5 separate regions of the Homo sapiens genome follow, and all the other regions are linked to region 2. The links come from fine-mapping of genetic effects on plasma protein levels. A gene starts in region 2. Each other region holds a variant in brackets. All regions are shown on one strand. Distances are between the middles of the regions. Region 1 has its middle 69 kb from the start of VWC2. Region 2 holds the start of VWC2 (von Willebrand factor C domain containing 2). Region 3 has its middle 62 kb from the start of VWC2. Region 4 has its middle 55 kb from the start of VWC2. Region 5 has its middle 27 kb from the start of VWC2.

What was found. PIP is the posterior inclusion probability: the model's chance that the variant is causal. The UK Biobank Pharma Proteomics Project read protein levels with antibody pairs (Olink). The fine-mapping took linkage between variants from a reference panel, not from the people measured, so its PIPs are less certain.
Region 1: its variant is fine-mapped to the plasma level of the VWC2 protein (UK Biobank, PIP above 0.99).
Region 3: its variant is fine-mapped to the plasma level of the VWC2 protein (UK Biobank, PIP above 0.99).
Region 4: its variant is fine-mapped to the plasma level of the VWC2 protein (UK Biobank, PIP above 0.99).
Region 5: its variant is fine-mapped to the plasma level of the VWC2 protein (UK Biobank, PIP above 0.99).

The regions. Positions count from the first base shown.
Region 1 is chr7:49,701,660-49,708,217 of GRCh38, reverse strand. No RefSeq gene overlaps it. Among named protein-coding and RNA genes, the nearest start is that of VWC2, 69 kb to the left of the region's middle. The variant C/G (reference allele first, on the strand shown) is at 2,681.
Region 2 is chr7:49,770,963-49,777,520 of GRCh38, reverse strand. VWC2 (von Willebrand factor C domain containing 2) reads right to left here and starts at 3,883. Exons shown (of 4, transcript NM_198570.5): 1 at 3,408-3,883; 2 at 1,390-2,188. The coding sequence starts at 2,085.
Region 3 is chr7:49,708,784-49,714,840 of GRCh38, reverse strand. No RefSeq gene overlaps it. Among named protein-coding and RNA genes, the nearest start is that of VWC2, 62 kb to the left of the region's middle. The variant T/C (reference allele first, on the strand shown) is at 3,266.
Region 4 is chr7:49,715,681-49,722,238 of GRCh38, reverse strand. No RefSeq gene overlaps it. Among named protein-coding and RNA genes, the nearest start is that of VWC2, 55 kb to the left of the region's middle. The variant G/T (reference allele first, on the strand shown) is at 4,077.
Region 5 is chr7:49,743,228-49,749,785 of GRCh38, reverse strand. No RefSeq gene overlaps it. Among named protein-coding and RNA genes, the nearest start is that of VWC2, 27 kb to the left of the region's middle. The variant C/T (reference allele first, on the strand shown) is at 3,446.

The DNA of each region.
Region 1 (6,558 bases), 69 kb after region 2:
GATTTATTTAAGCCATTCAGCAAATGAACTGCAGAGAGGGAGTTTGCATTAGTCTGTTGTTGGCTCTCAGCCCCATATCTAGACAACTGGCACAGCCCAAGCCACACAAGCAACAGGGGGCAATTAGTTATTCAAATCAGGTAATTACAGACATAAATACTCATTGTCTCATGCCATGTCTGCTGGCCTGAGAAGGCCCATTTAGAGCCAGGTCTTGAAGGACTATGTTAACAAACTCAGCAGGACTTTGTGGCTCAACATCAATAGGAGAATAGACTATTAAGTTAGTGACTCTTGTCTACCACTGCGTTGCGTGAGGAATATCTGTGCTCTCAAATTCAGTATTGTCCTTAGTGAACTTCTCTTGTCATTTTTATACCAAATGATTTATCTCTTTGAGAAAAATAAGCAAATTCATCATGTAATTGGTAATTCAAATAAAACATTTTTTAAGATCTTCCTTTGTGGGCATTTGGGAAAAAGGTAAAGAAGACTCAGGTTCCTTCCTTATGAGAATTATCAAAAAGTGCTGCTGTGTTCCAGGTGTTTTTGCATGTGTGAAAATCTCTTATTTTCCTAGGAGAGCTCTGGGGGTTGCTACTTTTCTTATTTATAAATAGAGTCCAGAACAGATAAGCACATCTGCCCAGAATCAAAGGTAGAAATGAATTCTTGAAAATTTAGGCTTAGGTTTGTGTGATTTCAGATCTCATATATATTATAAGGTATATCAGGAATACAGGAAAGTGCACAGATCAAAAGTGATACATTTTCACCGACTGAAAACACTTAAGTAACCAACATCAGATTAAATCTTCCTAACAATGAAAGTTATAGTTTCAGGCACTTGTTAGGAGATAGTCCACTCTTCTAGAGATCACACACTTTTACTCACAGTTGTAAAGTGAAAGTGAGGACATACAGGCCAAGGAAATGACAAAGCCAACATTTGCTGCAGTAGAGCCTTGTGTGTGCACCTCTGGCTTGGTCTGAGCTGGGGTCACATGCTACCTTCACTTTCCTCTTCCACTGCTCCACACTGTTGGAGGCTCCCAGCTGCACTCAGGAGGTAACTAAGGCTTGGGGCACATTCTAATCTTCTTGAGTTCTCCAGAAAGCCAGCTACTTACTTATCCATGATGGACACAGGGGAAGAAATTACCCTGCATTTAGGAGATTTGGACATTGTTTGTTGGTAAAATACTTTCTGCTATGTCGTGGCCGCTTGTCAAGACCCAAGGCTACAAGAGCATAGACAAGGCATTAGGAGACATAGAAGGTAAAGAAAAAGAAAAACAGAGAAACTCTAAAATACAGAAAGTCTCTTCAGACATATTCATTCTACTATCTAGAGGCTGTGGGGTTCAATCAGCATGAAACACCACCTTTGCTGTAGCTGGTTTTTAATGCAGACAGTGGTGTGAAATATAGGGACATGACGCATAGTGCCTATTCTGTGATCAGCCCTCTCTGGGCTTCAGTCTCCACAAAACCTACAGTTTTGGATAAGATAATTTCTTCCCTGACTTTCAGCCCTAACGTGATCGTGTCTTGTTTAGTGAGGATGCACTGTAACAGGAATGTGGAGGATGGCAAAGACCCCTGATATAGCAGGGTCAAGAACATGGATTCTGGGGCCACTCATGCCTGTGCACAGATCCTGCCTCCAGAACTTCCTGGCCGTGCATTGTGAAGCAAATTGTTTAGACTTTCTGCGCATATCTTTTTTCATTTGTAACATAAGGACAGCAATAATAACTTCCGTAAAATATTTCTGTGGGAATTAAAAGAACTAACAAATCAGTCAGAGCAATGTCTGGCGTCTAACAAGCCCTCTCTAACAGTCTGAATTAGTGCTGGGCTCATGGATCATGTTCTCTAAGTCACCTGAGGGCAGGATTGGGACATTGTGGTTCACTGCCGGGCTCCTAGGACTTGGCATGGTGTCAGTACTTGGCAGGCACTAGTTGAATGGCTGAATCATTTTTTTAAGGAATGATATGTAGACCAGGGCTTCGTGCTAGGGCTCTGTTAACATTTCTACCATGACCCCATTGTCATCTTTGTTTATTCCTTTGAGCAGAATTTTATAGTTTTTTTTTTTATGTCTCTTATCCTAACATAGGAGAAACCCTAGATTGCTGTTCTCCAATGAAATGCAGGCATGACCTCTTGGTAAGTAGAATCCTGAACATCTGATCTAATTTCTTAGCCATATGTGGGTAGCTCTATGCTCCCTTGCTCTATCTGGCATCTGTGAATGAGAATGCCTTCCCATATTACACTGTAGAAAAGGAGGAGGGCAGGTGGTTGGTGTGAGAAATGAGAGAATAAGCGGCTGTTAAGAAGGGGTTGCACTGACCAGTGGGGAAGGAAGGAGTGTTTTGTAGCTCTGAGCATCTCTTTGCAACATTTGCTTTTGGTGTGGAGGTCACATCTGTGGCTCTAAAAAGGATGCTGGGGGTTGGATTAAAAGTGGAGACTGGGAGGGGCTTTTCAGTACTCCTGACTGTGGGCTGTTCTGGTCTTAGTGAGACCTGGAGTGAATCTGATGGGTGTTCTGGGAATAAAGTCAAAAACATAAAGTCTAGAAAGCAATCAAATTTAAATAAAATTATGACCACCCAGAAATAAATATAAGGAGTTAAATATGACTCTCAGTGAGAACATCAGACCACTT[C/G]ATCTCTCACAGTGGAGAGCAGATCATCTCCTTTGATATTTCCTTTGCAGATTAATTTTTTGTTATTAAGAAGATAAATAGTACACAATCAACACTTCAATCTGGATAACATTGAAGGCAGCCGATTAATTTAAAATGAGAGAACTGCTCTCAGATGAACTTACCCTGCAAGAAGAGACTCATGTATCATGAAGAGAGAATCAGATTAAAATGGGCAAGGTTTGTAATAAAACTAAAATATCAGATGTCTGGGAATTTAGCCAGGAAGATGCTCCTAGCTTCAGTTTTTCCTGAGGAGAAAATACAATTATCGGGTATCCTGTAGTAGGTGTTTCTGTTAGGTAGGGCCCTATTCATTGATGAGAATGGTAGTTTTTCAAATAGAGATGTATTTGTATTTATTTGTGAAGTTTTAAAATTCATTATCTTGTGTGTACATGTAGCATGTTTGCTAGTTTTTTGCGGGACTATTTACATAGTGCAGGCTTGATAGGGCTAAATAAAACATTCTAAAAGTGTGTGAGATGATAACTAACACTGTATTGACCAATCACAGTCAGGACTAATATTACAGGTACCATCTTCTATATTTGAGGGATTAGGTATTGGTGTTTTATTTTTTATTTTATTTTAAGAAAACAACTAAAGAGAACAGGTATTACTCATATAAAACAGTCACATTGATAGACTGAATATTCATTATAAGGTGACAATCTCTCTATGGAATGTGTTGACAGGATATGCTATAATCTAAAAGCTCATGTTTATTCTCCTCTTCACTAATAATAATGTATCCACCATTCCAAAGATGAACACCTCTAATTTGTTTATGTGTTCCTTTGTCTACACCACCCACACATGGCATTTTATTTATTTATTTATATATATATCATCCAGGCTGGAGTGCGGTGGCGCAACCTTGGCTCATTGCAACCTCCACCTCCCAGGCTCAAGCGATTTTTGTGCCTCAGCCTCCCAAGTAGCTGGAACTAGAGATGTGTGCCACCATGCCTGGCTAAATTTTGTAGTTTTAGTAGACAGGGTTTCACCATGTGAGCCAGGCTAGTCTGAACTTCTGGTCTCAAGCAATCCACCCACCTTGGGCCTCCCAAAGTGCTGGAATTACAGATGTGAGCCATTCATTTTGTATAAGTATAATCATACTGTAAAGAGCCTTTTATATCAAAACATACCCATTTAAATTAAATCATTAGTAAATTCCATAATACTATGCATTTGGAATGCCTTTTTGGTAGGAAGTAATGAAGTGAGTAATAAAACATAGTGTAATTAAGGTTTCCTCTGTTATGGGACTTTTCCCCTTAAGTATTCTCTTTTACAATGCAGTGTCATCTCACCAGTGGCAAGTCTAGTTTTGTAGATGGGTTTACTTTGGAACCAGTCAGAAGTCGTTCGTACTCATATCTGGCATATAAAGAGGCTTGTGGTTTTTTTCCCCCCACAACTTAAGCAAATTCTTTAAACATTACAGGGCAGTCAGATGGGTGGCCTTCTCTGGAAGCACAGTCACTGGTCATCTAGCAGCAGACCTGCCGTGGAACTTTCTCCAGGTGTCCACTGGGATGACACTGAGTGAGAAGGATGTAGCATCAGAATAAAAGTGATAGAACCAGGAAATGTTGAAAGAGGAGACTTGACCGGTGAGGGAATATAGAGGAAGTTGTATTTTCCTTCATCAAATTGATGCCATTCCCGTCACTGTGTATGCCAGTCACGTGTTCTTAGGTGGGAAGACCCACCAGCCATTTAGGAGAGACGCCACCTAACCTAGACCAATCAGGTAATATGGGCCCCAGCCTTAGTGATGGGTCAGGAGAAGGGTTCGTGTCTTGAGATGATCCACGCACAGTGAAGTTGAACATGTTTTTATAATAGCTATGAGAAGAGACATATAGTTTCCCCCAGATGTGAAGCTTGAAGCCCTGTTACTACTGATAGCCTCTGTCTTGGGACAAAGGCAGCACATGTGGGTGGCAGGAGGAATTGCAGGGAAACAGCTGGAGCTCTTATGGCCTCCAGCAGACAGGGCAGGAAGCCTGCAGACCTCCAGACTGCTCAATCACTCAGCCGATAAAGCTCCCTTCTGATCTAAGATAGTTGTTACTTTTTTGTTTCTTCCGATTGAAAAGATTGTAGTGATACAGAAATGCTAGGTCATGCTGGCCTAAGGAGGAGAGATTATCTGAAGAAAAATAATGGTAAGGAGAGAGAGTCACCAGGATGGAAAAGACCAGCGAGCAGAAGTCACAGAAAAACAGACGGGATCTATATGTGAAAGGGAAGCGAAAATGGTGAGAATACTCTGTGGGGCTGGTTTTGCTGTCCCTTGTAAATAACTGAAGTTCAGACCAGTTAATTTTTGAATCCAATGTAAAGCATTGATTAAGTGATGAAGGCAGGAACTGAGCCCAGATCTGGCCAATTCCATGCTTTTTCTACTAAACATTTGCCTCGTTACCATTCACAGACAGCCCAGTGCCCAGCTGTAAGGGAAGATGTAGATGCTACTTCTGCAATAGGTGGGTTTACAAATTAGATATTCTGGAAGGACACGCTCTTTCACAGCCAACATTCAATGTGCGTAACCAGAAACAAAGAAAGTTGAAATTCAGCTGTTTAGGGGACTGGTTCAGGTGGGCATTGGGAACTTTGTACATGTGTGCAAACATGGGTGTATAAACACCTTCCTAAGGATGACTGTAAGGCACAAGCATTAGACCTAAGGCAGCACAGAGTTGATAAATACTTCAGTGGGGGAAGAAGTCCCAGGATTTTGTATTCTTCTATCATTGAATATTCTAGAGCTGGGTGGACTCCTTTACATCAACCATTCAGTGGGACAGAATATTTTGGATATTGATTTAATTCTGGAAATAGATGATAGCATGTCATCTGCAGCCCCAGCATCTGGGCAGCAGGTGTTCTGTAAAGTGCTTGCCAAGTGAAGACACAAGGGAATTCTTGTGAGAAAATCATTCACTCTGCTGACTTCCACCTGTAGCGGGGTTCACTCTAGGGACTAAAAGTCAAATGCATTTTTCCAGGAAAAAAGAACTTTATTGCATGTTTCTGTTGTACTATCATTTTTGACATACAATCCTTGATTTAGATGGACTCATTATGGAGGATTGAGAAATTTCAGTTGGTGGGTTATTCATGAGTCAAGGATCACAGAGACATATGGATGGTGACTGAATTCTGTAGGGGTTCAGCTACATAAACTTGAGTTATTTGTATGTATGATTAAAGGGAAGGAAAAGGAACCAAGAGTAATTTAGCATTTTTAGTGTGCCAGTCACAGTGCAAGAGGATTTATAACCATTACCTCATTTTGTCCTCACAATAATCTCATGAAGAAAGCAATGTCGCTGCCATTTTCTAGACAAGGAAAACGGGCTTTTGAGAGGACAAATAACACAGCTGAAGAAACGACATGTTGGATTTAATCCCATGTTTCTGGTTTCAAAGCTACTGCTTATCCCTCTTATGTTAGAGAAATCTAAGGTTTATGTCTGGTTCCTGAGATTCCAAAACCTGTACTCTTTGGTTAAGAAATTGAAATAAAAATATACAATAGAAGAGAATGATGCACTAATATGATACTGCACTTTGGTTAAGTGGAGTTTATATTATTGTTAAAATATTCGTAATACTAAACCCTTAACATTTAAAAAATCCATCCCAATTTAGCATGAATAAATTAGACCATAGTTTTGAGTACAAAACATAATTACAAATTAATTACAAAAAATTAGAATGAAGCTGAGAATTATAACTAGTATAAAAGTCTTTCAGTATTTAATTGTCCATTTGTAAAACAGAGGAAATTTACCTACATTTGAAATGACTTAAAGACC
Region 2 (6,558 bases):
AAAAGAAACCCAGAGGGCATATGTCTTTTGTTCCAGTCCTGCAGCTGGTTAGTGGTAAAGCCAGAATGAATAACCATGTTTCCTGACTCTAAATTCCAGCACTCTTTCCATACTTTGTACACTATATATAGATCTGTCCTTCCTGGCTTTGTACTTATATAACACTTGATAATTCATTGCCACAAGTCAGTAATTACATGGGCTTCACATCCTGGGAATTAGCAGATCTCACAGGCTAATTCCAGGAGGGGTATTCCAGCAGAATTCCTCCCTAAACCTTTGCTTTAGTAGCTGCACGTTCCATAACGCCCTCTGCAGGTGGGAAAAGGACAGCTATGGCCTGGTAAGTCAATGGGCTAAGTCCAGGCAGGCCATAGGTTGAACCTACCTTGAGGTGTTTGGAATAACTGAACACCTGTGCAGGTCTCTCTCAGGCCCCTAGCCCACTGGCAGAGATTTTACCTAGAGCCTGTGCATGCATGCTGTGCAGCACCTTCACCCAAACTAAAGCCCCAGTGGAGCTGGGCTTTTGGTTCAAGTAGAGTATAAGGGTTAAAAACCTAAGCTATGGAGTAGAACTGCTTAGTTTGACATATGAATCTGTTTCTTAATAGCTGTTCTGCCTTCAACACATTATTTAAATATTCTGTGTCTGTTTCCTCTTCTCCATAACATGGAGACAATGGATAATAATCCACCTCCTAGCATGGGATGAGATTTAACTAACGTACATGAAAACCAGCGGGATCCTGACGCACAGTAGGCATTAGAGAGATGGCCGGTATTATTAACATTACTACTACTCATCTGAAACAAAACAATTTTTAACCATTAACTGCACTTGTTGGTTTCACCATCCACTATGATTTGGCACCCAGTGAGCAAATATTTTCTTTTTCTTTTAATTTTTAGAACATTTGCATGATACCCTAAACACATAATCTAGGGAAATGGCTTTTTATATGAATAGTCTCCCTTAATTAGCTATTAGTTGAAGAATATATCCCAAATGGTACCGTAAATTACCCTGTGTTTGAAAGCAGGTTAAGAATTTCACCGACAACATTCCCAAATTAGGAGCAGTACATTAATGTTGAAAGTCCCTCCGATACCTGTTGGGATCCTTCCCTTCAGTGCCATAGGCTTCATCCTCATGAAGCCCTTTTAAAGTGAACACCGAAGGAATCCCTATGGATTGGCCACAGTGCTCTGGGAAGGATTACCTCTGCCCTGAAAAAGAGAGGTCATGTCAAAGGGACGTGAGCACAGTGCTCTCCACCTCTCAGAACCAGAGAGCACCTCTTCTTCAAAGTGGGGGACCACAGAACCAAAGCTGTTCCACCCCTTCCTGGAAGGTGCAAAGTCGCCCGGCGGGCGTTCGCATCTTACCACGAACTCCTCCAAAGTCTGATAGGTCTTGCCCCGGAACTCGCAGTAGTTCTTCCTCTCCTTGCACTGCGGGCAGCACTGGCTCGTGTCGACGTGGATGCAGCGCGGGTGCAGCCTCGGGCACTCGGGCTGCGCGCACAGCGGCCCCTCCTCGGTGCACAGGCACGGGCAGGCCGAGGGGCCCGGCGCGAACTTCTCCCCGATCGCGTACACGAAGCCGCTCTCGTCCACGCAGCCCTTGCCACGGTAGTCCGGGTACACGTACTCCTCGGGTGGCTCGGGCGTGGGCGCGAGTTCCGGGCCAATCGCGTCCTGGGCGGCTGCGGCCAGGGCTTCCGCCTGCGGGGTGTCCCCGCGGGGCCGGACCTGCAGATCCCCGGCCTTGGCGCCCCCGCCCTGGGAGACCCAGGCCTGCTTCAGCTTGCTCCACGGCTCACGGCCGGCGAGCCCACGGCCGCTCTTGCTCTTCCAGTCCCGGCCGCTGCCGCCCTCGTCCCTCGCCGGGCGCCCGAGCTCGTTCACCCGCCCCGGGCCGTCCCGAGAGGCGTGCTCACGCTTCTCCTGGCCCGGCTGCTCTGGTGCCTGGGCCAGCTTCTCCAGCGGGATGCTCGGACTGCACAGAGCCACCATCAGGCAGCAGGTGACCAGGAGGGAACTGGAGAGCGCGCCAACTGCCATCGCAGTGGAGCTGGGCATCCCCTACCACGTCCCGGCGGGCGGGCGGGCGGGGAGCGCGGCCGAGGGGCGAGTCGCATTCACAGCCCGGGGGCGCGCCGCCGCCAGCCGGGAGCCGCCGTCCCTGCGGAGAGAACAGCAGCACAACTGAGCCCCGCGGCCCGCGCGCGCCCCGGCCCGCCGCGGCCCCCACCCGGGCTCCGGCATAGCTCTAGATTAACGAGCTGGGCGACGGGGGCGGGGGCAGCATGCCCAGCGTCGGTGCACGGCCGGGGTTCTTAGACATCACAAACTGTGGAGCGATACATTGGAAGCGAAATCCAAGAACGACACCGGCCGGCGTGTTTCTGATGTAGTCGTGATTAGTGTTGGAGATGGCCAAGGGCGGCTTGCGGAGCCCAGGGAACGCAGCGAGCCAGGCCCGCGCCCCCCTGCAAAGCTCTGCCTTGAACCACGTAATTCAGGCACCCAGGGTGTCCCTCCCTAGGTCCTGGCCACATTTCCCGAAGGTTATTAAATGGAGAATTCAGCAGTGGAGTTAGAGACGGACGAATGTACAGGAAGATAAGAGGGAAACTCTTCCTCATTTGCTTTAGGGGGTTGTGCTGGGAAAATGCGGGGAGGTTAAACAAAGCTTCTCCTAGGACTCCACGATTCATTTCTAACAACTTCTTAAAAGACTCCCGTCTCGGGAGCAGACGCCCCCTCCCCGCTCTCTAAGCCCCGCTGCATGAAAGGATGCCCTCGGCCCCTTGCCAGAGGGCCGGGTCGGGGATTCCCGGGGCTTCAGCTCCTCTGCCGGCCCGCCCCTCCGAGCCTTGGGAGCCAGGTCGCCGGCCGCAGCGCTCAGTCTTGTAGTGTCCTGGCTGCGGAGCAGAAGCGCCCGGGCAGCACCAAGGTGTGCAGTGCGGGAGGCTGGGGCCCCAGGGCGCAGAGTGGGCGCGAGACCCTCCTACTCGCTGGATCCCGGCCAGCCTTTCTGGATTCCAAAGTTTCTGCCGCCCAAAGGGGCTGGGAGAGCCCGAGACGCCGCAGGACACCGGCAATCCAGCCTCTCTCCGCCTCACTCCCCGAACGCCCCCACTCTGCGCACTCCGGTGCGTCTGTCCCCTCCCCCTCAGCCCTCCTCCCTGAGGGCTCCGGACGTGCCCGGCCCTGCTGACCCCCTGCCCGGTCCCTGCCGACCTCAACACTGGGCGAAGCGCCCATATTCACAAACTTGGGCGGGGGAGGGGGTTCCTCCGGAGCAGCTGAGCGGCTGAACCCAGCTGGAGCGCGTCCGGCCGCGCGGGGACACCCAGCATGCACCCTCAGCCCTGAAGACCGGCGCCAAACCTACATACATGAGCGCAGGGCGCGGGCCGGACGCCGGGCTCGCAGCGGGCGCAGGGGTAGCAGCGGCGGGCGCGGGCCCGGGTTGCCAGCGCCCATCCTGGGCCGGCCGGCGACCCGCGTGGGGCGGACCACTAACAGCCCAGCCCCACCTGCGCGCTCCGCCTGGCGCGCACACCGGGCTAGGGCGTCTCTGGGGAGTCGCTCATCGCGCTGTCAGCTGCCGGTAGTCGCGGCCCCAACTCGCGTCAGTGCCCGCGTCGCCCTCAGTCGCTCATCCTCCGGCCTCGTCCCCGCTTCTCCGAGACCAAGCGCGCCCCGGGGGCCACCCTGGCGCCGCCTCGCTCCTCTCCGCGGAGGGGTTCGGGGAGCTCTCCAGACCCGGCAGCCGGAATGTCTGGGCAGCCGTGGCGCGTCGGAGGGAAAAGAGAAGCCCGGAGCGCGGCCGGCGCGCGAGTGGCACCGAGGCCAGCATGGGAGCTAGCGCGCCCGCCTCCCGCCTCCCCCTGCCGCAGCCGCCTCCGCCCGGCTCCCGTTCCGCTCCCTCCTCTGCTGCCCCCGCTCTGGAGGCCCCGCCTTGGCCCGCGCTGCCCCGGGGGAGGCCCTCGCGCTGCCCCCGGAGAGGCCCTACCGCCGCACCCGCTCCCTTTGCTGCGCCGGACCAACCTGTCACTCGTCCGCGCGGCCGCGTCCCCACCTCCGCAGCCGGCCGCAGACCCTGCCAGGGCTGCCATTCTCCAGTCGAGTCATTCACTTTGCGCTGGACCTTTCATCTTGGCTTTTCTCTTTTCTTTAATTTCTTCCTTCCTAATTGGCCCCCTCTGGCTTTCCTCTTTGTGGACAGCTTGTTTCAGCTACTGTGTTCAGATTGGGATTCGAAGGCCGTGTTAGTTTAGCAGACTGTTGAGACTTTCTCGTCTTTGCATTCAGAAACCCAGAGAAATAGACGTTTACGAGTAAGAAACGTAAAAATCTCAAGCGCGAACTTTCTGAATCTCTGCCAATCTCTCCCCGCTCCCATCTTCCTCTTTCTGCCTGCTCTCTCTTCTACTACAAATAGAAACCTGTTTCCTAACTTTGCTAGAATCCTCAACTGTTAAGCAGAGGCCCGGTTGTTTTTACTCTTTGATCTTGTGTAAACGAGAAAACGTCAATAGTACCTGTTCAAATTAATCCCCGAAATTGAATTTTCATGGAAATGGCCCATGGCAGTGGTTCCCACTCACGGCATTTTAGAATCCCTGAAAGTGCTCGGACGGTAAACAGATAAGCTTCCCTGCAAGGTCAGGCGCTCTGGCTGGTGGGAACTGGGGAGGCTGGTTTGGGACACAGTTATGTCTATCTTTTAATAGTATAGACAAACAAATCTTAGCTGAGGTGCTAGGGAGCCCTCCTTGAAAGCCTGAGAAGGCTGCCCCTCCACCCCCTCCAACACATACACAACCAACAGGGCTGGATGGAGGATTTCTTTCTCTCTCTCTCTCTCTTTTTTTTTTTTTTCAGACGGAGTCTCGCTCTGTGGCCTAGCCTGGAGCGCAGTGGCGCGATCTCCACTTACTGCAAGCTCGATTCCCGGGTTCATGCCTTTCTGCCGCCTCAGCCTCCTGAGTAGCTGGGACTACAGTCGTCCGCCATCACCCCCAGCTAATTTTGTTTTTGTATTTTTAGTGAGACGGGGTTTCACCATGTTGGACATGATGGTCTCGATCTCCGGACCTCGTGATCCTCCTGCCTCGGTCTCCCAAAATGCTGGTGAGCCACCGCGCCTGGCCTGGATGGAGGATTTCTATGTACAGGATGATTTGAGCCCTTCTGCTGTTTCAGTTCTCACTCTCATTTTTCCTTTTTTTTTTTTTTTTAATGTTTTAGAGACACGATCTCACTTTGTCACCCAGGCTTCAGTGCAGTGGCATGATCACGGCCCACTGCAGCCTCAAACTCCTGCCTCAGACTCCGGAGGAGCTGGGTGTACAGGTCACCACACAGGGCTAATTTTTTGTTTGTTTGTTTTGTTTTGTTTCGTTTAGGTTTTTTCTTTTGTTTTTTTTTTGTTTTTTTTTTTTGGTAGAGATGGGATCTTGCTTTGTTGCCCAGGCTTGTCTTGAACTCCTGGCCTCAAATGATCCACCCGGCCTCTCAAAGTGCTGGGATTACAGGTGTGAGCCACCACACTCGGCCCTTTCGTTTCTTGTTACCCTCAGAAAAGAGACAGGCCACATTTGCTGTGGCTGCAGCTGCCTACCCACCCACCTGCCTCTCATCACATGCTCTAATCAGTTATGGCTTCTGTGTCTTTATGATGCTCTAATCCAAATATCACACCTTTCACAACACCACCAAAATAAAAACACGGCTCGAGGTGTGATCATATGTAATGTGCAAAATGGGCCCTCGGTTCTATAAAATCAAGTGCTTTTATAGCATTGGTTAGGCTACAAATTTTGTTATTTGACTTATTAGCTAATTCTGTTCTTGTCATTAAACATCCTGTTTGTTTTGTTTTGCCAACAGTACTCTCATGTGGTTACGATGGGGTAGCCCCAAACACATGTGACTAATAAGAACGAAACAGTAACATTATGTGTCCAGGATTCTAACTGAAAAATTGATTGGGGGCTCAGCTGAGGAAATAATGATGTCCCTTTATTAATCCCACCTCAATCACCGGTCTCTCTGAATCAGAAACTTCTTGTCCCAGCCAGCTGCTTCCAGTAGAGAGCCATGAATATGAGATAGCCAAGTTTTCAAGAAGAGGCCTGACAAAACTGAGGATGAATTAAGTGACCAAGTGTCCAAATGGCTTTGTTCTGTTAGATATTCTCAGAGATAGTGTTACAGGCCTGATAGAATGAGGGAGGAAAGCAGTTTCCAAGGGATTGCTGTCCTTTGTGAAGAAGAGCAATACCCATGCAGCTTGATGAGCTGAGTAATTCGAGAAAATATAGGGGACTTTGCAGGCGTTGAAGGAATATACAATTTATTTATTGCCAGTGCAATGAATTGTTGCGATTAACTTTTCTTCTTTCCTTCCTTCTTTGTTCCTTTCTTTCCTTCCTTCCTTCCCTTTGCCCTCCTTCTCCCCTTTCTCCCTCCCTCCTCCGTCTCTCTCCTTTTCCTCTTTCTCTCCCTCATTTCTTTCCTTCTTTCCTTTATTCCCTCCCT
Region 3 (6,057 bases), 62 kb after region 2:
AAATCACAGAAGTCATCTGCTTGAGTCAAGTATATGGATTCTATTTATTCTTCTCAGCCAGAATGGAAACTTTCTATTTCATAAATTTTTTTAGGAAAGGAAAAAAGTTATTCCCTAACTATGCATCCCAAAAGCTTACTTCTTCTAAATCTATCCTCCCATCAAAACTAATCTGACGGTTTTGATCCCCTGAGTAAAAGCTGTCAGTGGTTCCCCAGAAGCTACCTGTTGTTAAATTCTTTTAATGCTGTGGTAAGTTGGATGATTGGCCCCTGTTCTTCACCCCTCACTGTATCATACCCTCTGCCTCTTTGCTGCGGTATTCCTACCACAAAAGCAAAGTGTACTCACTCACCCCTTGACACTGGGCTGTGCCTTGTGACTTGATTTGGCCGTTGGGTTAACAGCTGACTTGGCACAAGCAGGGGCTTCCCTTGTGCTTGTGCAGTTGGGAGAGCTCCCTCATCCTTCTGCCACTGCCATGGGAAGGACATTCTGCAGTAGCAGCTGGTCCTGCATGAAGGTTGAAGGACACATGGAGGAGAGTCATCCTGGCTTATCCACTAATATGCAAACAAGACATAATTACTGAGTTTTGTGTGCCAGTGACATTTGAGATTGTTTGCTATGCAGTGACCTTAGACTGTTAGAAATTCTTTGCAGCACTTTCCAGGGTCTTGTCTCTTCTGATCCTTTGCTTCCCCTCTCCCCACTGGTGATTTTTCCGCAGTGACTCCCACAGGCTGGTGGCTCCTGAGCATGCCTCATCAGCTCATGTTGTTTCCCTGCCAGCCTGCATTCCTGCTGTGATTTTCCTGAGCCTTGAGTCCCCCTACTCCTTTCAGAGAAGATGATAACCACAGGGCTTAGGGGATTGGCTTTGCGTGTCAAATGGCCCTTCACGGTAGACACAGACCTAAGCTTCGGGCACATAACTGCTCCAACCTCAGTGCTCTTATCTGGAAAATATGGGCAATAATATCTCATAGGGTTTTTATGAAGATTATGTGTATTTAAATCACTGGTTGCTCTAGTTTAACGTGCTTAATAAGATTTGCGAATGTTAAGTGTTTTTACGTAAGATCCATGTAAAGGTCATCTTATCTTGACAATTACTTCTTCCGTTTTCCACTTTCCTGTATCCTTTCTCTCCAAATGTAGAAATCTTTGTACTGCATTGGGATTGGTGTGAGACCTTAAACACCGTAAGGCAGGAATATATTTCTTATTCTATGCTGGTTGGCACAGAGTAGGGGTTATGTCTTTCTTGTATTGAATTGAACTTTGCACTTGGATTATTGTCTCCTGGGGGGCCCTACCAGCAGATCGAAATTTCCTAGAGCAAATTCCATTACTTGTGTTCCATTTCAAGCCTCCCTCCCTCCTTACCTCTGACTGTGCATTCTGTTTACTTCTTATAACCAGGAACATTAATCATTTTTGTATGTTTTCCTCCAATGGGACATGATGGACATGATTATTCATATGCAGGAGTAAACAAACCCAGCTTGTTTCCTTCTGGGAACCAATAAACATAGAAGCTATTAATTTAGACTGGAGAACAGGAGTTTAAAAAGCTTTTCCCTTTTTAATGATGCATTCCCTGTAATTCTATAGTATTACATTCGGGAAGTAACATGAGAGTTTTCTTGTGGCTAATTTAACACCTGTTCTTGTATGGACAGGTCTTTGAATTTATTTTTAAATGCTGTTTTTTTTTTTTTTTTTTTTTTGCTTTTATACCATCAGTGCATTTGTCTTATTGCATTTCTACTGAAGAAAAGATAAGATTAAATATCTTTCACAAGAATTAAACAAAACCAAATTAAATGTAAGTTCTAGGTAGTGCTGTATCATTTAAACACTTTCATGAATACTGGATTGAGAACTGAATGAGCATCATCATTGATACACATAGTACTTCTGACAATTTTTGCAATCTTTTGGTACCTGTTTCTCTGTACAAATTATGAAGAAACAATTGAATTTTTTATAGCTTTTTGACATCTCAGAAGCGAATAGGTTTTAGGGATTTAAATTTCTGCGGAAGGAAGCATGGTGTATACAGTAGGAAAGAGTCCCCATTTAAAAGCCAAAGAAAAGTGCACCTGGGGAATTTGCTCATTAATTGTGTGAGAAAAATGTAAAAACATCTCCTCTGAGCCTTTTCTCAACCACAAGATGGAAATAATAATATGCTCGTCACAAACTGATTGTGGGACTAAATATAAAATTTTCTAAACATATCGGGTTCCTTCATTTGAATATTTGTTTGTTGAGAAACATGATAGAACTTACTTATCTGTGACTGGAGGGACAGATGCACCTGGGATTGCTGCCTTCAGCTTAGGTCAAATTGTGTCCGGAATTGGTGGGTTCTTGGTCTCAAGTGCTGGGTTCTTGGTCTCACTGACTTCAAGAATGAAGCCGCCAACCCTCGCGGTGAGTGTTACAGTTCTTAAAGGTGGCGTGTCCGGAGTTTGTTCCTTCTGATGTTCGGATGTGTTCCGAGTTTCTTCCTTCTGGTGGGTTTGTGGTCTGGCTGGCTCAGGAGTGAAGCTGCAGACCTTCACGGTGAGTGTTACAGCTCATAAAGGCAGTGTGGACCCAAAGAGTGACAGCGGCAAGACTTTTTGCAAAGAGCGAAAGAACAAAGCTTCCACAGTGCGGAAGGGGATCCGAGGGGGTTGCCACTGCTAGCTCGGGCAGCCTGCTTTTATTCTCTTATCTGGCCCCACCCTCATCCTGCTGATTGGTCCATTTTACAGAGAGCCGAGTGGTCTGTTTTGACAGGGCACTGATTGGTGCGTTTACAATCCCTGAGCTGGACACAAAGGTTCTCCACATCCCCACTACAGTAGCTAGATACAGAGTGTCCACACAAAGGTTCTCCAAGTCCCCACCAGAGTAGCTAGATACAGAGTGTCCACACAAAGGTTCTCCAAGTCCCCACCAGAGTAGCTAGATACAGTGTGGATTTGTGCATTCACAAACCCTGAGCTAGACACAGGGTGCTGATTGGTGTGTTCACAAACCTTGAGCTAGATACATAGTGCCCATTGGTGTATTTACAATCCCTTAGCTAGACATAAAGGTTCTCCAAGTCCCCACCAGACTCAGGAGCCCAGCTGGCTTCACCCAGTGGATCCCACACTGGGGCTGCAGGTGGAGCTGCCTGCCAGTCCCGCGCTGTGCACCCGCACTCCTCAGCCCTTGGGTGGGTGGTCGATGGGACTGGGCACCGTGGAGCAGGGGGCGGCACTCA[T/C]TGGGGAGGCTGGGGCAGCACAGGAGCCCACGGAGGGTGGGGGAGGCTCAGGCATGGTGGGCTGCAGGTCCTGAGCCCTGCCCCGCGGGAAGGCAGCTAAGGCCCAGCGAGACATCTAGCGCAGTGCTGGTCGGCCAGCACTGCTGGGGGACCCAGCACACCCTCTGCAGCCACTGGCCCGGTTGCTAAGCCCCTCATTGCCTGGGGCCGGCAGAGCTGGCCGGCCGCTCCAAGTGCGGGCCCGTGGAGCCCACAGCCACCCAGAACTCATGCTGGCCCGCAAGCCCCACCCGCAGCCCCGGTTCCCGCCAGCACCTCTCCCTCCACACCTACCCACAAGCTGAGGGAGCCAGCTCTGGCCGCGGCCAGCCCAGGAAGGGGCTCCCACAGTGCAGCGGCAGGCTGAAGGGCTCCTCAAGTGCCATCAAAGTGGGAGCCCAGGCAGAGGAGGCACCTAGAGCGAGCGAGGGCTGTGAGGGCTGCCAGCACGCTGTCACCTCTCAAAATTAAATATTTTTCATTCACTATGTTACCTTGAGGAAGTCACTTAACTTTGTAACCTCAGGTTGGTCAGCTATAAAGAAAGTCAGTTATAAAACAAACTTTAAAGAGTTGAGTAGGAAATACGTCAGATGGTATAATTATCAATTAAATTAATAGCATTCCTTTTTTTGCACAGCTTTATTTAGATACAATTTATACACTGTAAAGTTCACCTGTGTAAAGTGTATGATACTATTGATACAAAATTGTGAAATCATCACCATAATCTAATTTTAGAACATTTTCATTACTCGGTAAAAGTATTTTATTTTTCTTCTAGCAAAGCATTGAATACCAGTTTGTCCACATCCTTGCTAACCCTTGTTTTTCTGTTTATCTACTTTAGTCATTCTAGTAGGGATGAGGTGCGATCTCATTGAGGCTTTGATTTGCATCATCTCAATGTCTAATGAGGATGAATATCTTTTTAGGTGCTTATTGGCCATTTGTATATCTTTTGGAGAAATGTCTATTCAAACACTTGTCTTCTTAATTCAACATTTGTCATCCTGCCCTGCCTTTTTCATACGCTGTTAAATGGCATTTATCACAGGTTACTAAAATTCCCTGACTCTAGTTTAACTGTGGCTTGGTGAAATAGAGTAGGGTTTGGAAGTTAGGCACATATATTCTTGATTCTATGTTGTTTGCAAATCACCTGACATTTTCTGAGCCTCAGTTTCTTTTTCTGTAAACATAAATAATAATACTTTTCTTACAAAGAGAATGATTAGATGAGATAATGTATGTAAAGGGGATACACACACACACACACACACACACACACACCCACACACACATATGCACAAGGCCCTGAACATAGAAGGAGATAAATAAATGGTTGTTCATTTTTCTTTCTCTTTCTTACTTGGGCCATGGGGTATAAATATAGAAAAAAAAAATCATAACAATTATTGGGCAACTTTCAGTTTCCCTTCTGTTCTGTTGAAACTTAGGAGTGCTTCATAGCACCCCACCAGTCTGGCACTGGGTAAACTCCAGGACAGTGCGGGACATTAATTGTAGGGCTGGAATCAAGAGAACACAATGGAGCGACAGGGCAGATCTATCCCAGACACCTCCAGGTTCAGGATGGAAAGGTGTGTAGTGTAGTCAGTGTTCTTGGTTGTAAATTGAAACAGAAAATACATGTATTCAGTAGGTATTGGGAGTTTTCAGGGTCCTCTTGAGGTGTTGTGGTCCAGGCTGGGAGAATGGCCAGGACTAGAACCCGGGAAGTCAGGCAGCTGAGGTAGTGCCTGGCTGGGATGGCACCACTGGCATGACCACACCATTTATGCTCTGCAGCCACTCCCTAGAATCTCCACCTGCCCTGGGCCTCTGCCTCACTCCCCTACCCCTGTGTTCATAGTCTTGGCTATGTCTGGAGTGAGATGGTGACTGGGCCCAGGTTACCTCCCATCTCCTGGCTGCTTAATGTGGGAGGGATGATCTGCTCTCTGATGGCTTCCTTAGGAAAAGGTGGGGAACTGCCTCTGCCAAGGGCAAACAATGAGAGGCTCCTCAGACAAGAAAAGGGTTCATTTCCTAGGAGTCCCCTAATGACAAATAACTAGTGAAGGATCCTAGGTTTTTGGTCTGTTTGTCAGGTGGGCAGGTGAAGAAATGAGTGAATGATTATATCCCCCTACAGATACTTGCAAAAGTGAATATTCGCTATGTAAGGCAATCAAGGTATTTGGCTTCCTTAGACTTGTACATCTAATAGCATACACCTGACATGTTTATATTCTTTTTACTTTGTCATGGCTTTTCTTTTCTTAGGGTCCACTGAAAAGAGAAATTTCAGTGACTAAGAGAAGCGACTTCCAATTCCCTCATTTGTGTAGGTTCTGGTTTTCCAGGAGATAGTGCACTAACAGGTTGGTATCAGAGCCTTCCCCAGGCTACATCCCCACCTCTCCTGCCATCATCTCCTGCCTGGCTGCCTGTCTCTCATCCTGTGCTTTCTGTCTTCAATAGAGTGGCCAGAATGACCTGCCAGCCCATTGCTCCAAAGGCCACGCTATGGGCTCTGCCCCCACCATCCCTTTCCCCACTTCTCCCTGGCTAATGTCAACTTAATTATCCAGGACCCAGCTCAGACATCACCTCCTGCTTTCTCCTAACTCTAGTTGCTTATCCATGTGTCTATTATAGCTACTTAATTGCTTGTGTGTGTAGATTCTCTTCTCTTAGATTACAAATTCCACAAAGGCTGAAAATAACTCATCAGCACTTGCTCTTAG
Region 4 (6,558 bases), 55 kb after region 2:
TTATGCAACTGTTCGCTTGTGACACAGAGAAGAACAATTTTAAGTACAGGCAAATTGGCGAGAGCAAGAAGTGGGTAGCAAAGTATATGGGCTGTGCTGAGCTTGCCTCGTTCAGACCACTCTTCATCTTTCTCCTCCTCTGCTTGGTCTTGCAGAAGGGCTGATTCCTACAGGCTGAGTGTGAAGGATTCTGTGTCAACTGCCTCCTGTCTGAGTCAGTCAGTTAGGAGGCATTGGGGGATACTAGAGGACAGGAGGAAGGAAGAGAGAGCAGTATCATAGGCAATAGCAATATCTTGTCTATGTTTGCAGCTTCCGGCAGACAGACACATTGGAATTCCGGTTTTTGTGGGATGACTCTAGCTGCTGGGCTTCAGAAAAGCCTACTGCTTGTGTCCTTCTGGTCTAAGGGTTGAAAACGATGGCTTCCTGATATTGCCCATTTCTGGCATGCTTCACTGTGTTTCTTAGTCTTCTTAGCATTTTCATAACCTGAGTAACCAACTCCCTGAATTCAGTTCTCTTCATTTCGAGTACTTAAGGTGGCTTCTGGTTTCCTGGTTGGGCCCTAACTGACAGGGCTGGGTTCATGGGTGTGTAACCTAGGCAATTGCTCAGGGACCTGGCCTAGGAAGGGCTCGTGCTTGCTTTACTGCTCAGCTATTGCAGTATTGAAAAAAGAACCTTCAATTTCATTTTGCACTAGGCCTCATAGATTGTGCAGCTATTCTTGCTGATGAACACACTTGGAAAATCTTAGAATTGCTTGCTGTAATAGAACACGTCTAGAAGGGGTTTGTTCTTGACAGGTCACTTGCCAAGGCCTCTAGACATGGGATGGGTTGTTCACTCTGACATGTAGACAGAAGGGTCACCTAAAGCTTCTGTTAAGGACAGAAGCAATGAAAGTGACCAGGAAAGTGTCATAGAGCATAATGACTGAGGTGGTGAGGTCAGATTATAAACAAGATTGTAAATAACAGAGTGAGAAGCTGGAAGAATGGGCAATTGCTTGCTATGGGTGTCAGTGGTTTTGCTAGACCATGAGCAATGCAAGAATATTGCTAGACCATGAGCAATGCAAGGATACTGCAGATCCAGTGTTCATGGTGTTGAACGTCTTAAAATTCACACATTTTTTGCTCAGCCTATTTTCTTTTCTAGAGACACTATAGTATGAAAGACTTGGGTTTTTTCACACATATATTAATGCTGTTATTGGCTCGTCTGAGAAATATGTACAGTTTCTTCAATCTGTAGCCCAGCAGGCCAAGAAGTTCCAAAATAATGTTTGTACCTATACCAGGAATGAGTCCTTAAAAAAAATCAATCTTCTGCAATTGAGCCAGAAGAAGTCCAGCACTGCTGTCGTCTCCAAAGACAACATATTCTGAACCTAGAGCTCCTGCCTCCATCATCTTGATCCATTCACTCTATGAAGGAGATTTCTATCCAGAACATTATGAGGCTTACAAACCTTCAATGGAGAGAAGAAATTCAAGTCTTAGTGTCTAATAGCTATGGCACAGATGTTTGTCCCCTCCAAATCTCATGTTGAAATTTGATCTCCAGGGTAGGTGTTGGAGACTTAGGGACAGATTTGTCATGAATGGCTTGGTGCCATCTTCACAAAATGAGTTATCAACTATCAGGTCCGTTAGCTCTTGTGAGAGCTGGTTGTTAAATAGGGCCTTTCACCCCACTCCCTCTCTCTTGCTTCCTCTCTTGACATGTGATCTCTCAGCATGCCAGCTCCCCTTCACCTTCTACCATGAGTGGAAGCAGCCTGAGGCCCTCACTGACACAGATGCTGGCACCATGCTTCTTGTACAGCCTGCAGAACTGTGAGCCAAAGAAACATCTTTTCTCCATAAATTACCCAGCCTTAGATATTCCTTTATAAAACACAATCAGACTAAGACACTAATTTATAATGAAAATAATTGCCAACATTCATATAAGGCATGATATATTTCAGGTACCATGATAAACATGTTCCTTTTGTTGTCTTCATAAAAATTTCATGAGGTAAGACTATTGATATGCCCCTTTCACTGTTGAGAAAACTGAGGATCAGAGAATTTAAATAGTTTGTGCAAGGTTCCATAGACAGTAAATGTTGGAGTTGAGATTCCCACCCAGGCAGTATGCCTGCAGAAACAATTTCCTTAGCTAAGGGACTTAGTCCCTTGTTCGATGTAAAATGTAATTCTGGCCCAATTAACATAATTGTTTTTACTGAATATGGCTAAGAAGGTTAACATTATGGGATTAATTGCTTGGTTAATACAAACTCTTTATTTTAACCCCTGACCCACCACATGAGGAGCTCAGACCCTTCTCCTTACTCCTGTATCACCCTAGGTAGTACCCCACTGTTGCATTGCTTAGAACACTGGGTTTGTCCGTCTGCTAATCAGCCTGCCCTCTTCTTCAGTCCTGGGTCTCTTGAAGACAACAGTGTTGTAAATCTGATACCAGCCTTTAGAACAATGTCTAACACATAAAATCACGTCACACACATCAACTGAAAAGGTGGCTGAAAGACTATGTATAATTCTAGACTGGAATTTGGAGATCAAAAATGAGGTTCTGTCCCACTGCTCTCCTGAAGTTTGACTTCTGCCAGCCTCACCTTCTGTGCCCTCTGTCTTCACAACTGTTGACCACCCTCTTTGCAGTCTCCTCATTCCTAATGGTTGGCATTTTTTTAATGACAGTAGCTAAAAGGAGATTATTGTCTAGCTTAGATCTTTTTTTTTCCTTTGTTACTTTATTTTTTCTCTTCATTCTTGATTCCTCCAGAAATCAAAAACATCATAGGGAAGATTTAGGGAATCTTTAAAGCCTTTCCAAGCAACATAGTAACAGCATACTTCTAAGAAAGTTAAGTTCTGTCTTCAGGTAAGCCAGGGAATTTGAAGAGTTGAGTAGAGATACTTCGTTGATTCTGGGGAATCTAGATTTTTGGCAATCTTCCATACTCCCCACCCCTGCTTCCCTTTATTTCTCACATTTCTCATCTCAACCCCTGTCAAGTTACCATTTTCTTGACTGAAAAAGATTTGGGAGCCAGGAAAAAATACCATTCCTGTTTAGGAGTGTATTTTTTATTTCCACCTTCAAAGCTGTTTTTATAGTTTTTGCTTTTTCTCATTCCCCTCCAGCCCAGCTCCTGGGATGAGATGATTCCACAGAAACTGTTTCCTCATTTGCTGTGCCTTCTGAATCATAGGGTGATGTGATTAGTCACTCGTGAAAAAGGCCAAACTAAATCAAATTCGTATTCTGATCATGTGGAATCATTTCTCATGTACGAGGGCTGTAAGGTAGTATTGTGTAATGAAGCAAAACAAACAAACCCTCCTATGAAATATAATAAAAATCCTGACCGGCTCTGGTTAAATCCCAGGACATTCTTTAGATATGGAATCTCAGAAAAGTTTCTTTTTCTTTCTGAATCTTCTTTCTTTTTCCTGTAAAATGGAGGCACTATTGAATTGTGTCATTATTTAATTAAAACCTCCACCACCACCGTTCGCCTGGGTAAAGTATCTCTAATAGTGTCTAGCAAATACTAGGTGTTCCAGCCGTGCTAATGTGCTTGCCAGTTGTCTACATTAGAAATGAGACATCAAAAATTCACATAGTATAAGCACTTCATCCTTTTCCAGTATCCTAAACAGCTAGCTGTTCTGCCTTTGCTTGAAACTTCCAGTAATGAGTAACCCTCTGTCCCCCATGGCAGTCTATTCTTTTTTTTTTCATAAACCTATAACATAATCGCTTATTATTGTCAAGTATTATGTACTGTACATAATTGTATGTGCTATTCTTTTTTATTTATTTGTTTATTTTATTATACTTTAAGTTATAATAAATCTGCACAACATGCAGATTTGATACATATGTATACCTGTGCCATGTTGGTTTGCTGCAGCCATCAACTCATCATTTACATATTTCTTCTAATGCTATCCCTCCCCCAGCTCCCCACCTCCTGACAGGCACCAGTGTGTGATGTTCCCCGCCCTGTGTCCAAGTGATCTCATTGTTCAATTCCCACCTATGAGTAA[G/T]AACATGTGGTGTTTGGTTTTCTGTCCTTGTGACAGTTTGCTCAGAATGATGGTTTCCAGCTGGATCCATGTCCCTGCAAAGGACATGAACTCATCTTTTTATGGCTGCATAGTATTCCATGGTGTATATGTGCCACATATTCTTAATCCAGTCTATCATTGAGGGACATATGGGTTCGTTCCAAGTGTTTGCTATTGTGAATAGTGCCACAATAAACATATGTGTGCATGTGTCTTTATAGTAGCATGATTTATAATCCTTTGGGTATATACCCAGTAATGGGATTGCTGGGTCTAAGTCATAATAGTAGAGAGATCTTTTTTAGCATGAACTGAATAGACAGAGTAGCATTGGCCAGAGATTGCAGGCATGTGCCTCAGCCTCCTGTTTTCATACCCTGATGGCCCAGGGTAAAGTCTTGATGTTTCTGTTTACGTCACCCACCATCCCTGAAAAAGGAAAGATTATAAACTCTCTTATGCCTGAGAGTTTTGTAATAAAGTTTGAAACAGGCAAGAGATTAAATTAGCCTCATAAATCATGAAGCACAAGTTATAGCTGTGAAACAAGTTAATGGTTAAGAAGAACGTAGCTAGAATTTTGGTTTTTGTTTGACTGTTTTAACATTTCCTTTCCTACTTCTTTCTAAGAAAGACCAGTGTGGCTGTCAAAGTCTGAGATAGTACGCAAGGATCCCTGCCTCTTGGGGCTCACATACTTTGGTTAGATTTTCCTCTTGAGCATGGACTTTTATCCAATAGAATAAGGCCAAAAGAGATGTTATCTCCATGACTGAAGTTGGTACACTTGTAATGTGTGTCTTTCTAGAAGACTTTATGGTTCTATTAGATGATGGTTCCCAAACTAATTGGCTTGCTTGTAATCACTCAGGAGAACAGAGCATCTTTTGAATTTGTCCTTGGTTTGGTGCAAGGCCCACATACACAGGCACTGTACTATGGAGGCTGTGTTTGCAAGTGTGGCCTTGGGCCTGCCATGCCTTCCTACAGGCCTACCTGCACCTGCCACCTGCCCTGAGCCACAGCTTCACTGTGATGCCCTCTCATTAGTTTCCTCCTGTCTCCAGCTTTGGCACCACAGTTTATTGAGGCTTTTGTGGCTATCTTTTTTGTTGTTGTTTTTTGAGACGAGTTTCGTTCTTGTTGCCCAGGCTGGAGTACAATGGTGCAATCTCAGCTCACTGCAACCCCCACCTCCCAGGTTCAAGTGATTCTCCTGCCTCAGCCTCCCAAGTAGCTGGGATTACAGGCACCCACCACCACACCTGGCTAGTTTTTTGTATTTTTAGTAGAGACGGGGTTTCACTATGTTGGTCAGGCTGGTCTCGAACTCCTGACCTCAAGTGATCCACCTGCCTCAGCCTCCTAAAGTTTTGTGACTATCTTACTGCTCTACCTGCAGGCTCCTGGCACATTCCTTGACTTCCTGTTGAACATATCTTGGACACACTATGCATGCGTTAGATCCCCTTGGCCTGCTACCCTAAAGCCCTCTAGCAATGTGCCACATGGGCAGCCTCCAGTGGTCCTGGCCCAGGGTTGCCTGTATCTAATCCCTTTCTTGTGTCCTTTATTGTAGGTCTAGGTGTGAGAAACTTAAAAATAGTTTTTTCAAATAGGTACAAGGAAGAAAAAAAAAAAAAACAACTAGTTCTCCGCACCTACCAAACTAGTGGAGGAAATTTTATCCTTGTTAGTTTTCATTCTGCTATCTTTGTCACTGCTTCTTAGGTCGGTTGAGATGCTGGCATTCAATAAATTTGCTAATCATCCTGGCTTTTGTCCACTTGAAAAAATGATAAACATATTGCCCAAATATTCACATCCATAATACTTTTTTAGGACAAATCTGAACAACATATTGTGTTTTTCTCCAATGTAGTTTAAAAATTTGACATATTTTTCCCACATAGTTTTAAAGCATATACAACTAGAAGATTTGCCTTAACATTTAATGCAAGAGCTTGGGAGAAATATAAGACTCTTGTGCTTAAGAAATTACATCCAAATTACATCCAAATACACTGATTCTGCTTCTTTATGCTTAATGGATGATTAGGTGTTTTAGGCTTTAATTTTGGAAGGAATATAAAAGGTTATAGCATACACAGCATGAAAATGTATGTGACAAAATCTTTGCCAGATGTGAGCTGCATTTATTAGCATGGACTCTTCTTAAGCATAATACGAATCTAATGCCAAGTTTATGTTTACCTAAACTGATGATGTTCTGGATGGAGATGCTTAATCTACTCTATTACAAGAAGGGGGTGAAGCAGAAAAGTAGATGTGTGGCCTCTCCCTTCTTTCTCCCCTCCTTCTTCCTCAATGCCCTGCAAGAAGAAGCCAGGGATCTCACATCATACAGTCAGCGGCTTCTTAACCTGTCTCAGGGTATGTGAAGATGGATGGCAATTAAGAACATTCATCTGACTGGGCTAGAAACATGTCTCCACAGCAC
Region 5 (6,558 bases), 28 kb after region 2:
ATAAACACTTGGTTTTAATTAAAAACCGTATGCTGGGCTTTCTTAGTTCTTACCAAAATATAAGTAGAAGCTTTGGAAGCCTCGTTAAGACACAATTTTGGGAGGTCTGTGCTCCTGGTCATTGATTTTCCTGGAAAAGAATGTGTGCATGCAGAAACATCTTAGCATATCCTGTTATATATTATAAAATGCCATGCTATTTGTGATGCCCTTTTAAATTTTAAATTAGGAGCTAAATGCTCACCTGTTTCTTCTCATACTTTTAAATTCCTGTAATTATTCTTATTCAGCCTATTGATGTGGCATATTAAAGCAACAGTGCCTCCCTTGGTTTAAATGCCGATTGCACAGATGAGGACATTAACACAGGAGATTGCGGTGACTTATCCCCGGTCCCACAGGCATCATGATCAGACAGCTATTCGTTACTGAGTTGTCCGTGAAAGCCTTTCACCTTGCAGTGGCTTTTCCCACTTTCTCTTCCAACAACACTAGTAATAGGCCTTCCCGAATTTCCAGACTCAACACTCTTAAAGAATCACATTCCATCCAGTGCACTATAGTAATCAACATGTTTTACCCATTACAGTAATACTCCAGTTGACAGAATCAAAGCCACAACCCTCTCAGTGGGCCCAAGATGCAAAATTGCAGCCTGATGGGGTGATTCACCTGCTCCTCTGTCCCATAATCCTCCTGTCACCCGCTGGAGGCCACAGGTCCTTCTGGTGTCCTTCTTTGCTTATATGCCCTTGATGGAGGATGGTAGATGAAAGAGGGAGGTGGTGAAGAAGAGGGCATTTGGGGAACCTCTCTAATTTCAAGTTACTTTAAGACCTGGAATGCAAAAGTTGTTAGAATGAACATCTTGCCTTTTGACTGAACTAAGGGCAAAACTGGGCAGCCTTTCCTCCATAAGTATTCTGTTGTAGCGGTTTGTTTTTTAGAGTCCCTTTTCTTTTCTTTCTTTCTTTCTTTCTTTCTTTCTTTCTTTCTTTCTTTCTTTCTTTCTTTCTTTCTTTTTTTTTTTTTTTGAGACAGGGTCTTGCTCTGTCACCCAGGCTGGAGTGCAGTGGCACCATCTCAGCTCACTGCAAGCTCCACCTCCCAGGTGCATGCCATTCTCCTGCCTCAGCCTCCCAAGTAGCTGGGACTGCAGGTGTCCGCCACCATGCCCGGCTAATTTTTTCTATTTTTAGTAGAGACGGGGTTTCACCATGTTAGCTAGGATAGTCTCGATCTTCTGACCTCGTGATCCGCCTGCCTCAGCCTCCCAAAGTGCTGGGATTACAGGCGTGAGCCACCGCGCCTGGCCTAGAGTCCCTTTTCAGACTGGAGAAGTTCTCTTCAATTTTTAATTTGCTTTGCATTTTTATCATGAATATATGTTTAATTTAATCGGGTGTTCTATCTGTATCCATGAGATGATCCATTTTCTCTTCTTTAGTCTATTAATAAGATGAATTACATTGACTGACTTTCAGATTTCGAGCCAGCCAAACATACTTGATCATGACATATTAGCATTTTTACATATTGCTGGATTTTATTTGTAAGAATTTTTGAGGATTTATGCATCTATGTGCACAAATGCTATTGTTCTGTGGTTTTCTTATAGTATCCATTGTCTTTCATACTTTGAATGAGTTTGCATAGATTCGGTATGATAGTCATCCACCACATAAGGACATACTGGTCAATGATGGACTGTCGTATACACTATGGTGTCCCCATAAGATTATAATGGAGCTGACAAATTCCTATCGTCTAGTGGCATCATAGCCCTCATAATGTAGCATTACTCATGTGTTTGTAGTGATACTGATGTAAGCAAACCTACTGCACTGCCAGTTGTATAAAAGTATACCAAATACCATTAAGTAAATTACCTAATACTTGATAATCATAATAAATGACTATGTTAACTGGTTTATGCATTTACTATACAACACTTTTAATCATTATTTTACAGTTTACTCCTTCTACTTATAAAAAAACAGCCTAATCAGGTCCTTCAGGAGGCATCCAGAAGTAGGCATTGTTTTCATAGATGACAGCTCCCTGCCTGTCATTGCCCCTGAAGGGCTTCCAGTGAGACAAGATGTGGAGGTGGAAGATGTGATACTGATGCTCCTGACTCTGTGTAGGCCTAGACTAATGAGTGTGTTTGTTTCTGATAGAGTTTGTATATTTGCCCCCGCCTAAATCTCATGTAAATGTCATGTTGAATTGTCATCTTCAGTGCTGGAGGTGGGGCCTGGTGGGAGGTGCTTGGATCATGGAGGCGGGTTTCTTATGAATGGTTTAGTGCCATCCTCTTGGTGCTGTCCTGGTAATAGTGAGTGACTTCTGAGATCTGGCTGTTTACAAGTGCATGGTGCCTACTCCCACCTTACACTTGCTCCCATTCTCCTTATGTAATGTGCCTGCTTCAGCCATGAGTAAAAGCTTCCTGAGGCCTCCTTGGAGGTAGATGCCACTATGCTTCCTGTACAGCCTGCAGAACCATAAGCCAATTAAACCTCTTTTCTTATAAATTACCCAGCCTCAGATATTTCTTTATAACAATGCAAGAATGGCCTAACACAGTGTCTTAGTTAACAAAAAAGTTAGAAAAAATTAAAAAATAGAAAAAGCTTGCAGAATAAGGATATAAAGAAAGAAGAAGATATTTTTATATAGCTGTGCAATGTGTTTTGAGCTGTTATTATAAAAGAGGCACAAAGTTTAAAGTTAAAAAGTTTATAAAGTAAAAAAGTTAAGGTAAGCTAAAATTAATTTATTATTGAAGAAAGAAAAATATGTTATACATTCAGAATAGCCTAGGTGTACATTGTCTGTGAGGTCTACAGCAATAAACTGTAATGTCCCAGGCCTTCACATTCATTCACCACTCAGTCACTGGCTCACCCAGAGCAACCTTCAGTCCTGTAAAATCCATTCATAGTAAGTGCCCTATATAGGTGTACCATTTTTTATATTTTATATTTATATATTTTTATATTTGATATAAATTTTTATAAATTATATATATATTTTTATAAAATATATATAAAATTCTATACATTTATATATAATATATATAAGTTATTTTATATATATTATATATACATATATAATATATAAATATATATAAAATTTTGTATATATTTATATATATGATATATATAAATTTTATATATTTTTAATATATTTTTTATATTTTATATTTAAATATTTAAATATTTATATATTTTATATTTTAAACATTATCTTTACTGTTCCTTCTCTATGTTTAGGTATGTTTGGAAACATAAATACTTACCATTGTGTTACACTTGCCTATAGTATTCCATACAGTAAAATGCTGTACAGGTTTATAACCTAGAAGCAATAGGCCATATCCTATAGCCTAACTGTGTAGTAAGCTATACCTTCTAGATTTATATGTGCATTCTATGATGTT[C/T]ACGAAATGATGAAATTGTCTACTGACACATTTTTCAGAACAGTGTCCCCCATCATTAAGCAACACATGACTGTATTTTGTTCTTAAATATGTGTTAGAATGGGACAGTAAAGGCATTTGTTTCTGGAGTTCCTTTGCTGGAAGTCTGTTAATTATTAATTAATTAATTTAAATAGATATAAAGAAATTCAGGTTATCTATTTGTTCTTGACAGAGTATGGCAGTCGGTTCCTTTAAAAATATTTAATTTCATTTAAACAGTTGAATTCATGAGTGTGGCATTTATAGTTTTATTATTAGTCTAATGTGTGTAGTCTGTAGTGATGTCACTACCTGTTCCTGATGTTTATAATTTTTTTCTTCCCTACTTTTTAGGTGGGCACTCTGATTAGAGGTTTTACAATTTTAGTTTATTAAAGAATCAGTTTTTTGTTTTATTGATTTTTCTCCATTGCTTTTCTATTTCAGTGTAATTGATTTCTGTGCTTATCTTTATTTTTCTTCCTCCTGTCTGCTTTGGATTTGATTTGTTATTCATTTTCCAGTTTTTCAAAGTGAAAAGTTAGAGAACTGATTTACTTTTCTTCTTTTGTGATATAAACATTTGATGCTATCAATTTTTCTTTAAGCACTGGTTTTGTATCCCACAAATTTCAATGCGTTGTGATTTTGTTTTCATTAAACTTAAGGTATTTCCTATTATCTTGTGTAACTGCTTCTTTGTGCTATGGGTTATGTAAAAGTATTTTTCAAATATTTGGATATTCCTATGTATATATTTTTCTGTTCATTTCTACTTTTTTCTTACTATGGTCCAAGAACATTGTTAGTATAATTTTAATATTTTGTATTTGTTAAAGGTTGTTTTTTGGCCAAGAATAAATTCTATTCTGGTGATCATTTCATGTGCACTTAAAAAATATGTATTTGCTGTTGTTGGAAGTGTTCTGTGCTTCTAATTCATCAAGTAGATAAAATTGGTTGATACTGTTGTTCAAGTCATCTATATATTCATGTATTTTCTGTCTATTTGTTTTACTAGTTACTAAGAAAGGAGTATTAAAGTCTGTAACTGCAACTGTGGATTTCTTTATCTATTTTTTCAGTTCATGTACATTGAAGCACCACTGTTAGGAGGAAAATTATGCAATGACCCTCCTGATCTCTGGCAATGCTACTTGTTTCAATGTCTATTTTCTCTGATAATTTGTATAGGTGCTTTAGCTTTCTTTTGATTTATATAGTAATCTTTTTATATCTTTAAACTTTTAATTCATTTATATATTTAGATTTAAAAGTGAGTGTTTTTTATATATAATATATTTAGGTTTTATTATTTCATCTGCTTTTATGGTCTCTGTCTTTTAAATGGAATATTTAGACCACTTATATTCTATATAGTTTTGATATAGTTGAATTATGATTTATTTTGCTAATTATTTTAAAATTTGTTACATCTCTTCACTTTATCATTTTGTACTTTTACTCTTTGCCTTAATTCAGTATATTTTCAATGATGCTCTTTTGCTTCTACTACTGGGTTATCATTTAGTGCTTTTAAAAAATGATTTTTAGTTATTTCTCCAGGGTTTAGGATATACATTTTGAATTAACTATATCCAATCATCAAATATTATATAATTTCCTATAGTGTAAAGAGCTCCCAACTGAATTCCCCATTTCTTTCTCCCAGTTTTTCTGATATCTTTCTGTATACTCTATATTTACATATACTATAACACACAATGCATTTTTACTCTAGCGGTTTTACACAAGTAATTACATTTTAGAACAATTAAAAATTTAAAAAAAGATTGAGTATTTACCACCATTTATATCACTTCTTGCACTCTTTATTTCTTTGTTTAGATCCAAGTTTCTATATGATATTCTATTCTTTTGTTCTGAATAATTTATTTTACCATTTCTTGGAGTGCAAGTCAGCTGTTAATGGATTTCCTAAGCTTTTGGTTGTCTGAAAAACTCTTTCATATTTTTTTAGAAAGATTTTCACTAGGTGTAGAATTCTAGGTTCATTGTTTTTGCAATTAGCACTTTAATAATATCATTTCATGTTCTCTCACTTTAAACGTTCTGATGATAAGTCTGCCGTCAAGATATTCTCGTTATCTTTAGTTTATGCCAGTTTGTATATCACTTATTTAGGAGTGTTTTGTTTGTTTACTTATTTGTGTTTATCTTGTTTAATATTTTCTGAGCTTCTGTCATATGTGATTTTGTGTCTCTTATGCTTTTTGACAATTCTCAATTATTATCCCTTTAAATATGTCTTTTGCCCCATTCTCTTTCTCTCTCTTTTATGACTCCAATCATATACACATACATGATAGCTTGATATTGTTCCTTACCTCTTGAATACTCTAGTCTGTATTATTTTTTCCCCCTGTTTTATTCTCTTTGTATTTCAGTTTGGATAATTTCTTTTGAAGTATCTTCAGTTTTACTGAGTCTTTACCCTGTCAATTTTACAGATGTGCCTGTTGAATCCATGTATTTTTCATTTTTGCTTCAATGTTAAGGTTTATTTCTGGCATTTCTGGTTAATTCTTTTTGGTAGTTTCCATGTGTCTTCTAAAATTCCCCATCCGTCCACGCATGTGTCTACCCTTTCCATGCAATCTTTTGACCTATTATAGTAGTTACTTTATTTCTTTGATCATTTCTACTTCTGGGTCATATATGTTTCCCTTTATTTTCTCTTTTTAGGAATTTATCTTATTTTTTTGCTTCTCTATGTGTCTCTTAATTTTTGGTTGAAAGCTAGGCATCCTATGTGGGACAGAAGAGATGGAAGTAAATAGTATTTGTGGCACAAACTGAGCATGCCTTCTGTTTTGCTAGGCTTTTAGTATGAGGCATTTAGTCTATGTAGTCAGGAATTGAGCTGGGTTTGGGGTTTATTGTTACTATGATTACCCTCAGTTCACCCCGGACTGTTTGATTTCTCTATATTACTTTGAGTTTAGGGTGGGGGCTAGGTTGCCAGGGGATTTTTCTTCATAATCCTGATCTACCACCAGCTTTCATCTTTCAATGTATGCCTACATCTTAGAGAGGACCAGTTTTTGTTATGTGTTTTGTACTTCACTCTC